Homo sapiens: one gene and its partners. The protein of the gene in region 3 binds, or shares a complex with, the protein of the main gene of each other region. Each region holds a gene or a part of one and is shown on either strand. Other genes may lie near its edges.

Region 1 (3,745 bases), on a different chromosome or scaffold from region 3:
GTTTTTATGAAATGTATTGTCCAAGGTCAATTCAAAAAAATTATTTAACAAAATTACTTATTTTACCAAACTCATGTATCTTGATAATGTATTTTTCTTTGATTTAATGATAGTGTTTGTCTTCATTTCACAGAAGTTATTCATCTCTTATTTTTGGTGAGACAACTAGAACAATTTCTGCTTTATGAAACATGCAAATAAAAATTAGGAGCAATGTTAAATTTAACTAACTTGGTTTAATGCTAGTCAACCAGTAATTCTTCAGTACACTTAATATGATGGGAAAAACAGCATGCTGCATTGTTGCAAATTTTACATTTTCTTTAATAAAATGTATTTGTTTACGGTGTCAGTAGGGATTAAAAATCATAATTCTAAATTTAAAGTATTTAAATTATAGAAAAATGATTCCATTATTTTGGTAATGGAACAGAGAAATACAAATATAGAAACGTTTTTATCCTTTAGATCTTCTAATGGTGCAGATATTTCTTAACCAATTTCAAGAGTGCCTTATTCAAAAACAAAAAACCTGCACATAGAAAAAGCAAACATGTTTTTTTAAAAAAAGCCCTGTAAAAGTGGTTAATCTGTCGTCTGATTTTCAATGTATGACTTTAATCAATTGCATATTCCTTAATTCTGCAAATGACAATTAAAATTAGGAATCAGTACCTGAAAACGCCATTTATACTTTTGAGTTTATATTAGAAACACGGTTTTGATGAAATACCTTTTTCGGTTCAATCTTTTTGAATTGTGACCACAACCAATAGCTACACTTAGATTCTACAGAATTAGTAGGAAAGATACAAATGAGAAGGTCTTTCTAGACAATGGATCTCACTGAACATCATCTTAGTGTGTAGACTTTTTCCACTGCAGTGGCCCACATGTGCTATGGTGACAGACGGCAGTTGGCATTACCACTTATATAGTAAAATATCTTTAAGACAAAAATAAAAGTTATTTAAAGAATACGCTGGCCCTGAAACATGAGCTGTGCCTTAAACTACATATCCTACCTCCATGAGTGAATGAATAAGTGGGTTTTCCGCCTGCATCTATGTGTTAAGACCTATTGTTTGCTTGTATTAATTGTAGTCCTGGGATAAAAGCACAGAGGTAACTTTCACTGCTGCTTTTTGTACTCTCTCCAATGTTTTGGAGGAAAAATAAGCACAAACAATAGCCTAGAGAAACTGAATCGATCATACTTGTTGCAGCTTCGACAAACGTCAATTTTGCTGCATTAGAATGGGAAACATTTTTCAGTCTATTGAAATGAATTACAAACGTTTTTAAATAGAAAATTAGTTAAAAAATTGGAGGCTGCTTAATCGATAGCTTTCTCTATAAACATACTTGGATTTCACAAATAAGTAATACCGTAAAAATCTTCTTCTCCAAAGAAAAATCCCCACAAATAAATCTATTGATACCTAGTGACAAGTGGAACCAGATAAAAATGGAATCTATAAGAATTAACCTAATTGACAGCGCTCTGGAGCTAATCCATTTCCATTAGTTATTTGTTCACAGTAGGTACTCCTAAGGACTTGTTGAATTGCGGGCTTGGCGCCCGTTCTACGGAGAGTTCACAGCCTTCGTGAGTGGGGACAGAAGGCGGCTCGGCCCGGTGATTCAGGTCGAAATTCAAGCTGAACAGCCTGCTGAGAGGTGGGATCCACCATCCGGACAGTGGGGGGCTTTGGGGGTGCTGTGAGACTGGGCTGCGACCCAGGTCCAGCAGGGAGTGTGCGGCACAGACCACAAGGTCGGCGAGGCCCCCTAACCCGCGCCCGGCCGGGAACCCGCAGACCAGCGACGGGGCAGCTGCGGGGCCAGGAGCGCCCCAAGACGGGCGGGCGCTGAACCCGAGCCCCTGCCGCCGCCCTGGCCCCGAACTTCCGCCCTCCCAGGACCTGTCCCGGCCGCCCCGAGCGGTACTCGAAGGCCGGGGCCGAGATGCCACCTTCCGCAGGCCGCGGGAAAGGCGCGCCGAGTCCTGCAGCTGCTCTCCCGGTTCGGGAAACGCGCGGGGCGGGGGCGTCGGGCTTGGGACAGGGGAGGATACCAGGGCCACCTTCCCCAACCCAGGCCGCGGGGGCCCGGCCTCCCCGATGCAGACCACAGCGCCCTCACGGGCTGCCCTCAGGCCGCGCAGCGGGCAGCCGCCAGCCGTCACCCCGGGGAGCGTCCGTGGGGTGCCCAGGCACCCCACCCCGGCCCGGGGCGCTCAGACGGCAGCAGACTGCTGGGCGGCGCGGGGACTACTTTCCACCGCCCCCTCGCGCCCCGCCCCTTGTCCTCGCGCGGCGGAACGCTCCGCGCTGCGCCGGTGGCGGCAGGATACAGCGGCTTCTGCGCGACTTATAAGAGCTCCTTGTGCGGCGCCATTTTAAGCCTCTCGGTCTGTGGCAGCAGCGTTGGCCCGGCCCCGGGAGCGGAGAGCGAGGGGAGGCGGAGACGGAGGAAGGTCTGAGGAGCAGCTTCAGTCCCCGCCGAGCCGCCACCGCAGGTCGAGGACGGTCGGACTCCCGCGGCGGGAGGAGCCTGTTCCCCTGAGGTGCTTGGGCGCTCCTTTCCTTATCCTTCCGGGGCTGCTCCCGCTTCCTCTCGGAGCCAAACTTCGTAGCAGGCGCGCGGTCCGGGCGGCGGGCTGGGCGCAGCCGGGAGGCCTGGGGTTGGGAGCGGGGAGCTCAGGTGGGGGACGGTGAGGGTGGGCCGCGCCCGGGGCGCGGAGGGCGGCGGCCGGGCCCGGGTTCCGGTCGCGCTGCCTCTCTGGGGCCCTGGGGGCATCGCTTGCGGGGAGGGGGCGCCGCGGGGGCGCGTACAGGAGCCCGGATGGCAGGCGGGGTGGGGGTGGGGGTGGGGGTCTGTGGTTTCCGTCCGGGGCTCTGGCCTTGGCCGAGTTTGGGGGAGGGACCCGGTGCCTCGGGATGCGCCGGGCCCTGGGTGGGGGGCGGGGTGGGGACGGGGGGCTCCGCCTTCTCAGCTCTTGCGGCGAGTTGGGGTTCGGGCGCTGAGGCAGAGACGCCACCCTAAGTCCCATCAGTCCTGGGGATCGGACCAGTGGACTTTCTCTTAAGATTTCCTCTTTCATTCTTAAGAATAGAAGTGTTATTATTTTTTTTAATGCCCTGGCTATGTGAGTTTGAATCGAAGCAACTTTAAACCTTAGAGCAACTAAACTCTAAGTGCAGCGGGTGCGATGCGTCAGTAGGGTGAGCACATAAAAAATCCATGTCTTGCACCTGTATTTTAGCGTACTATGCAGGTGAGTGAAAGCAGTGGATAATGTACTGGGAGTCTTATGGATTTATGGTAGTGGGTATGAGACCCTGGTGAAATAAGGGGGTGGAGGAAGGCGAAGGTGATGGCTTACTGTTTCTTACCAAGTGAACTGCAGGATTCAGCCTCTGACTCAGACCGCTTCGAGAATTTTGTTCGTAGAAATAATTTAAATTTATTCAAATAGTTTGATGGCAGCTAAAATTGAATTATAGAGCACGTTTTCTTTTCAGCGGAGTGAATTTTTCCTTCGCTCCAAAGCTGGCCAAATGGAATTCAAGCATTGCAACTTCTTTCAGTGTTTTGTCTGGAGAGAGGACTTTGAACCGAGACTTTTCGAAGTTAAGTTCCTATAGCCTGCTTCTGAATCTGCCAAGCTTGAAAGCTTTGGCAGTTGGGTGTATGTAGTTGTTGCCTTCGTTCTCTTCCCTTTTGGAGGGAGCGTTGTCTC
Region 2 (3,745 bases), on a different chromosome or scaffold from region 3:
CAAACACATGCTCCGTGTGTCTGCTGGGACAGCTTCGGGCCTCCAATGATACTTCAAAAGATGCCTGGGCAGAAGGAAGAGAAGGGATATCATGGCTGCGGCAAGCCAGGGTCTCCCATTCACCCAGGGGCAGGGCCCTTGATGAAGAGCAGCTGCGAACTCCAGCCCTCTCCACGCACTCAGGTAGAACCACCAAGATGGCCGGAGTAGGAAGAGACCTCAGAACCAGCAAGCTCCCATGCTTCATGGAGAAGAGAATGCACAGGTGAGCTCACATTTGACAGGTGAATTCTTTAACATTCATTATCTCTTTGCATCCCCATGACCCTGAGGAAATGGGCCCCTGCGGAAAGCTATAGGGCTTCCTTGAGTTCACACAGTTCTTATTCTCCCTTTCTTTTCTCTTCTGTCCTATCCTCTTCCCAGCCCCGCTGCAGATGCCTCTTCTCTGCTCACTTAAAAAGTCATTTGGTGGAAAAACATTTCCTGGGCGCTGCCTCTGTGCCAGGCACAATGGCACTCTCACAGGGTGCCGGGTGAAGGGCACCCACCTGGCCCGCCATAGAGAGGGCTCTGTGCCTGCTGGCAAAGGGCTCAGCTGACTCCAGAGCTTGCTCTCCAGACACCCCCGAGTCCCCCGTGCCCCAATTCCTCCTCTGTGAGTGCTTGTCATAGCTGCATCTTTCACAATCCCCCCATGCCCCTGAGGTCTTAAAGAAGAGTCTCCAACTGATGAAATGCACCATGCACATGGACAGACCTTTTCTTTTTAAACAGAATATGTAAGGAAGTGTTTCTCACTCAGGAGCTTCTCACAGATTGCCTTGAAAACAGGCTCAAGGTGGGCCTGGATGGGTGGCAGATGGTGCGGGAGGGATGCCTGTCAGCTGCCCACAGGGCTGGGATGGAAGGAAAGCAAGAATGAGGCTTGGTCTGATTCAGGAACTAGAGCCTGACTCCCCCACCCTCTCCTCCTCACCCCCCTGAGGAGAGCCATGTGGGGTCTGAATCACCCATCAGGGCCCTGAGAGCAAGTCACTGTGGATTCTATGAAAACGCACAGACAGGTGGCCAGTGTGCCCTGATGAAATGCCGTTGTAAAGTTTTACTCAGGGGTGGGTTCTCCCTTACTCCCTGAACAGACAGAGGCCCGGCCCACCCCACAAACAGACTCACTGGATCTGGGTCCAAATGTCTTTATTTTTCAAAAGGCTCCTCAGATCATTCTGAAGCTCAGAATGGGTTAAAAACCACTTTCAGCTATTACTATTCTTAATTCTATTCTTTCGGCTAGAATAAAGCTTTTTTTTTTTTTTTTGAGGTGGAGTCTCGCTCTGTTGCCAGGCTGGAGTGCGGTGGCATGCACTCAGCTCACTGCAATCTCCACCTCCCGGGTTCAAGCCATTCTCCTGCCTCAGCCTCCAGAGTAGCTGGGATTACAGGTGCGCGCCACCACACGCAGCTAATTTTTGTATTTTTAGTAGAGATGGGGTTTCACCATGTTGGCCAGGATGGTCTCCATCTCCTGACCTCGTGATCTGCCCACTTCGGCCTCCCAAAGTGCTGGGATTACAGGTGTGAGCTACTGCGCCCAGTCATTAAAGCTAATTTTTAAAATGTCATCATTCACTTGATTTACTGGACAATCTTCAGGTAACAATGTTTTTGTTGTTGTTGTTGTTGTTTGAGACAGAGTCTCTCTGTCACCCAGGCTGGAGTGCAGTGGCACCATCTCGGCTCACTGCAGCCTCTGCCTCCCAGGTGCAAGCGATTTTCCCATCTCAGCCTCTCAAATAGCTGGGATTACAGGTGCCTGTCACCATGCCTGGCTAATTTTTGTAGTTTTGGTAGAGACGGAGATGGGGTTTCACTGTGTTGGCCAGGCTGGTCTCAAACTGCTGACCTGAAGTGATCCACCCGCCTTGGCTTCCCAAAATGTTGGGATTACAGGCGTGAGCCACTGCGCCCGGCCCACGATGTTCATTTTTTGAGAACATTATAAATATCTGTTTCTAAACATACAGATCCCTATTACTTTGAGATTTTTACTGGTTCTAAAAGGCCTCCCCTCAGATGCTGTGACATCTAGGGACACGGGGAGAGGGGAGAGGGTATGGGACTGAGCAGGAGGATAGATCCTGCTCTATAAGTCCTGCAGAAAGTCCTGCGTGGCAGCAAACTGCTGTTTCAAAGGACTTGACAACAGACACCCAGGACTCAGCATTAGCCAAGAGGCTCAACAGGAGAGGCTTCTGGATAGGTGAGCTGAGGATAGCTAGGGGAGCAGGATCAGAAGACACTCGGGGGACCAGGCCAGCTGCAGACAGCTTGGGCTAGCTCCACCTTACCTTCCATCTCTGTGGGGTAGGAAGAGTAGGAAGAGACAAAGGGGAGAGATTGACAAAAACAACTCCAAGGCTAAGTTCCAAGGTCTCGAGGTACAGGGAGTCTCTCAAGGTGAGTAAAGATTCAATCCACTTGGACACTGAAATTGGTTAAAGGATAACACGAATAGGATGGGCGTAGTGGCTCACACCTGTAATTCCAGCCCTTTGGGAGGCTGAGGTGGGCAGACTGGGAGGATCACTTGAGGCCAGGAGTTCGAGACCAACCTGGACAACATGGCAAAACCCCATCTCTACCAAAAGTACAAAAAATTAGCCGGGCATTTTGGCACATGCCAGTGGTCCCAGCTACTCAGAAGGCTGAGGTGGGAGGATGGCTTGAGCCCGGGAGGGGGAGGTTGCAGTGAGCCGTGATCGTGTCACTGCACTCCAGCCTGGACGACAGAGTGAGATCTTGTCTCAAAAAGAAAAAAAAAGCAAAACAAAACACTAATAATTATTAGTTGCCAAGTGCCTACTATGTACCAGGCACTGTGCTGGACTTTTCCACAAGCATCTCTTTTAAATGCCCTAGAAGGAAGTGTCCTCATTTTACCAGAGAGAAAACAGGGTTGGCGGGGTTGGTGGATTTAGTCATGCTCACACAGCTGATGAGTGGGGCCAGGCCTAGAGCAGGGCCCGCGCTCTCCTTAGCATATCCACCTCCTAGACGGGGGAATGAGGTCTACCTCATCGGGGTGCGCAGGGAGAGCCAGCCTGGCTTACTAAAGGGACCCCTTGATGGTGATCCCCAAAGTGGTGGCCAGAGGCATCTCCACATCTTTCTGCCGTGGGCTGGGAACGATTTGAGCCTGCAGATAGGATAAGAGTGGGGACTATGCCTGCCCGAAGCCACCCGTGGGGCCATCAAGAATGCAGAGGTGAATGGAGCTTTGAGGGGCAGATGCCATCCCTCCCTTCTGAGGCCCAGAGAGAAACTTGCTTGCATCTCCTATTACTATTTGCTTGAAGCTCCCACAACAGTGACATGCTTGAAGCTACCTGTAGCTTGCTTCAAGTTACAGCTGAAACCCTGTACTTCTAGGGCTACAACTTGCTGGACTTGTGCTCCACAGAGGCATCTGCGGGTCAGAAACTGAATAAACTACAGAGGAATGACCTGGACCAAGAGCCAAAGGCATTTAATTATTGAAAGACTGTGGGGAGTACACACCTGTGAGTATAACCTTGTCTCATGGAAACTTGCCTGCCTTGGGGTTAAAGCAATGAAAGTGAGAGTTAAGTCTCCAGAATCTTGCTGATGTGTCTGGGAGAAAGTGGGAGGTTAGGGCACCCCTAAAGTTCTGGCACTCAATCACCAGCATGTAGAAACACTTGGGCACTGTCTGCCCAGCTGGGCA
Region 3 (3,745 bases):
ACCCCACAGAGCAATTCCACCATGCACCCTAATAATTAAGGTAAGGAGGGAGGTAAGGGCTGGTCAGATGAGAGAAAAAGAGCCTGCAGCAAGGCGAGCCAGGGTGGTCCCGGGCCAGCTGAGAGTGAGCGACCCGTCAGTGAGAGAGGGCAGGGTGGGGAAAGGATTCCCAGCAGAAGGAACAGGAAGGTCAAAGACCGGGCGGGAGGCATGGGCCTGGAGTTGGAGAACAGTAAAGGGGCTGGGGAGAAATGGGCAGAGCCATAAGAAGTGAGGTGGGAGTGACTAAGGACCACAGTGAGAGCTTAGGGTTTTAAGAACAGTGAACACCCCGCTCTGCCCAGGGTACCACCCAGGGACACTCTCCCCAGTCAGAAGCCCGTCGGACTCCCTTGCTCGGACTCCAGACCACCTACAAACACCCTACTCCCATAGGCTCACAGGAATCTTCCCTGCCAGATCACACCCTTCCAAGGAAACCAAGCAGACAATCCGATCCGCCCAGGGAGTGGCCCAGCCCTGCCCAGCCCCCTGCTTCCAGGAGAGACCTAATGGCTGGCAGCGGACAATGTGGCGACCAGGGGCAGGAGCCCTGGAATCACCCAGGCCCAGCTTCGATTCTAACTCTGCCTTCAGCAGAAGCTTCTGAGCCTCATTTTTCCCGTCTGTAAAGTAGGTTCATCTTGAGCACTCACTTCACAAGATTGCAGCAGGAGTGAAATACGACCGGGCACACAGGGCGTGGAGCACAGTGTGAGCCCTCATTAAACATTAACCGACATTATGATGATTTGAGAGGCGGTCGGCCAGAGCAGGGCTCTGGGCCAGAACTCCGGAGTTAGAATCCCAGCGCACAACTTATGCATCGGGTGACCTTGTGCAAATCACTTAACCTCTTAATACCAGGTTAAGACCCCCTAAGACTATAGTGAGGACTGAATAAGCTCATACAAGTAAAGCGTTAAAAAGAGGGTCTAGCCCATAGTGTTTCATGAGTGTTTGCCATTATTATTTGTGGGAGGGTTCCCCCTTCTCCTGTCACCAGGAAGCATCTCTGACCCGGCCCCCCCCCCCCCCCCCGTCCCCCGCAATACGCCCTCCTTGGGTTTTAATTTTTGACTCTGGGAAACAGCTGCCCCGCTGTCAGATTCTCACCTTTGTACCTTCTAGGCACGCCCCAGCTTTGAACCCCTAAAAGACGCCCCCGAACCTAAAACTCATTCATCTGCTCCGCTAGGGGCAGCTTTAAACCTCCAACCTGGCGCCCCTGGGGCTGTGACCTCTGACCCTCGTGGGGGCAGCCTTCCCTCAAATTATTAACTTTGACCCTGCCTTTTTTGAGACTCGCCCAGAACCCCTCGAACGCGCCCCCACTTCGAATTTCAAACTTTGCACTCCCCTTCGCCACGCCCCCTTCGCTGGTTTGATCTCCGACCTCCACTACAACTCCCTCCAGTCTGCGTTAACCCCCGACCCCTCGGACGCGACCCTTCCCTCCACCAGTGACCTTTGACCCCGGCGGCCCCGCCCCCCTCCTCGCGGAAACGCCGTCCCGCCGCCAGCGCCCGGCCCACCGCAAGCCCCTGGCCGGACCCCTTATCCTACCGGCTCGGCGCCGCAGTCGCTCGCGGCCTAACTGCTCGACCTGGAACTCCGCGCCCTCGCGCCTCCCTCAGCTCTCTTGCACCGCCACCACCGCGGACACTCCCGCCGCCATGTTGAATCCCCAACGAACATCCGGGGCTTTCCCCCCTCACCGCCCACCAGTCCCCATAGCAACGAGGCTGACCGGGCAGTGGGCAGGGCCAGTGCGGGGGCGGAGTCGGGCGCCTCTCAGGGCCCGCTCCAGCCTCCGATTGGTACAGAGCGTCCAATCGGAGACCTTCGGGCAGAAAATGCCAAGCGGGGATTGGAAATTTTGGAAAAGGTGCGGGAAGGCTGGCTCCCGGCCCACTGAGGTCCTTAAAGGGGAAATGACTGTTTTCGTGTGATACCGATTTTCTAACTTCCCCCCCAGAAGGAGTTAGGGGCTGGGAGAAAGTAATGAGTTAATGGGCAGAAACAGTTCTTAAGCACTTACTAGGAGGCAGGCACCGGGATAAGTGTTTTACTTGCATTTTCTCGCTGCATATACAACCCTGTGGTATAATATCATTAATACCCATTTTACAGATAAAGAAACAGAGGTTCAGAGGGTGAAATAGCTGGCTTAGCATCATAGAAAGAAGGTAATGAGTTTTGAACGCTGGTCTGTCTGAGCCCGGGAACCTGAGACTGTTTGCTCTTCAATTTTTAAATAAGTTTTTACGAAGTAATTGGTCAAAATATTGAAAACAAACAGCAGACATCTTCTTTAAAAATTTTTTTAAATTTTATTTTTACTTATTTATTTGTCTTGAGATAGAGTTTCGCTCTTGTTGCCCAGGCTGGAGTGCAATGGCGCGATCTCAGCTCACTGCAACCTCCGCCTCCCGGGTTCAAGAGATTCTCCTGCCTCAGCCTCCTGAGTAGCTGGAATTACAGGCGTCCACCACCACACCCAGCTAATTTTTTGTATTTTTAGTAGAGACAGCGTTTCACCATGTTGGCCAGGTCGAACTCCTGACCTCAGGTGATCTATCCGCCTCGGCCTCCCAGAGTGCTGGGATTACACGTGTGAGCCACCAAGCTGGCCTTTTTCTTTTATTTTTAAAGAGAGAGTTTTGTTGTGTTGGCCAGGCTGGTCTCGAACTCCTGGGCTCAAACTATACTCCTGCCTCGGCCTCCCAAAGTGCTGGGATTGCAGGCGTGAGCCACTGCGCCCGGCCAGACATCTCTCCTCCTGGATCTTATTCACTGGACTCCAGCCTTCATGCTGTTCCTGAACTCTTGTCAGGTGCGCTCTCACCTCACAGTCTTTGCACTGGTTGTTCCTCTGCCTGGAACATACTCTTCCCCCAGGTATCCTTATCTCTCCCTCCCTTTTTTCAGGGCTTTACACAGATGTCACTTTCTCTGTGAACTAATTCCCTCGCTCACCCTAAGGAAAGCAGCAAACATCCCTCTCACATACTACCAAACTCTGTCTGCTTTGTTCTTATTTCTCACTCCTAATTGTAGTTATTGCTTGTTGGTTGTCTCCTCTGCTGGAATGTCAGCCCCATGACAACATGGATTTCTGTCTTTGTTCACTGCTGCATTCCCAGTGCCCCAGCACTGTTGGCATGTAGATGCTCAGTAAACATTGGTGGAAGGGCTGTTTGAATGCGTGGTAATTCCACCCCTTCAGAGATACTCTTAAATGTTTGGTGCTTCTCCTCTGCCCCAGAACAGCCACATAGTAGGCATTTAATTAATTTCTACTAATGTCGGTGGCAACAATGAATGAATGATTGAATGATGAGTTAATTTTTCTTTATGTTTACCTATCTTTTTTCTTTTTATTTGTTCATTCGTTTTTTTTTTTGTTTGTTTTGTTTTTTGTTTTTTTTTTTTTTTTTAGATAGGGGTCTTACTCTGTCGCCCAGGCGGGATTGCAGTCTGAAACTCCTGGGCTCAAGTGATCCTTCCAACCTAGCCTCTCAAGTAGCTGGGACTATAGGCATAAGCCACCACACCGGCTAATTTTCTTTCTTTCTTTCTTTTTCTTTCTTTCTTTCTCTTTCTTTCCTTCCTTCCTTCCTTCCTTCTTTCTTTCCTCTTTCTTTCGACAGAATCTCACTTTGTCACCCAGGCTGGAGTGTAGTAGCATGATCTTGGCTCACTG

The links.
Region 1: the proteins of PAK4 (region 3) and CTNNB1 are in contact, whole or in part, in a crystal structure (PDB 6WLX), measured with the Homo sapiens proteins. Residues at the interface, in NP_001014831.1 of Homo sapiens: Ser331, Gln358, Thr404, Asp440, Lys442, Ser443, Asp444, Phe461, Leu475, Val476, Gly477, Thr478, Pro479, Tyr480, Trp481, Met482, Glu507, Phe516; in NP_001091679.1 of Homo sapiens: Lys672, Arg673, Leu674, Ser675, Val676.
Region 2: the proteins of PAK4 (region 3) and ITGB5 are in contact, whole or in part, in a crystal structure (PDB 7S46), measured with the Homo sapiens proteins. Residues at the interface, in NP_001014831.1 of Homo sapiens: Gly330, Ser331, Gln358, Arg359, Leu362, Thr404, Lys442, Ser443, Asp444, Asp458, Phe461, Leu475, Val476, Gly477, Thr478, Pro479, Tyr480, Trp481, Met482, Glu507, Glu512, Phe516, Asn517, Glu518, Pro519, Pro520, Met524; in NP_002204.2 of Homo sapiens: Ser762, Arg763, Ala764, Arg765, Tyr766, Glu767, Met768, Ala769, Ser770.

Annotation. Positions count from the first base shown.
Region 1 is NC_000003.12:41,197,102-41,200,846, forward strand, and holds the start of CTNNB1 (catenin beta-1), read left to right. Parts: upstream 1-2,403; 5' UTR 2,404-2,569; intron 2,570-2,620; exon of another isoform or gene 2,621-2,706; intron 2,707-3,041; exon of another isoform or gene 3,042-3,280; intron 3,281-3,289; exon of another isoform or gene 3,290-3,745. UniProt on the Homo sapiens protein: Key downstream component of the canonical Wnt signaling pathway.
Region 2 is NC_000003.12:124,796,754-124,800,498, forward strand, and holds part of ITGB5 (integrin beta-5 isoform a precursor), read right to left. Parts: intron 65-3,745; coding exon 1-64.
Region 3 is NC_000019.10:39,123,780-39,127,524, reverse strand, and holds the start of PAK4 (serine/threonine-protein kinase PAK 4), read right to left. Parts: upstream 1,740-3,745; 5' UTR 1,606-1,739; intron 1-1,605. UniProt on the Homo sapiens protein: Serine/threonine-protein kinase that plays a role in a variety of different signaling pathways including cytoskeleton regulation, cell adhesion turnover, cell migration, growth, proliferation or cell survival.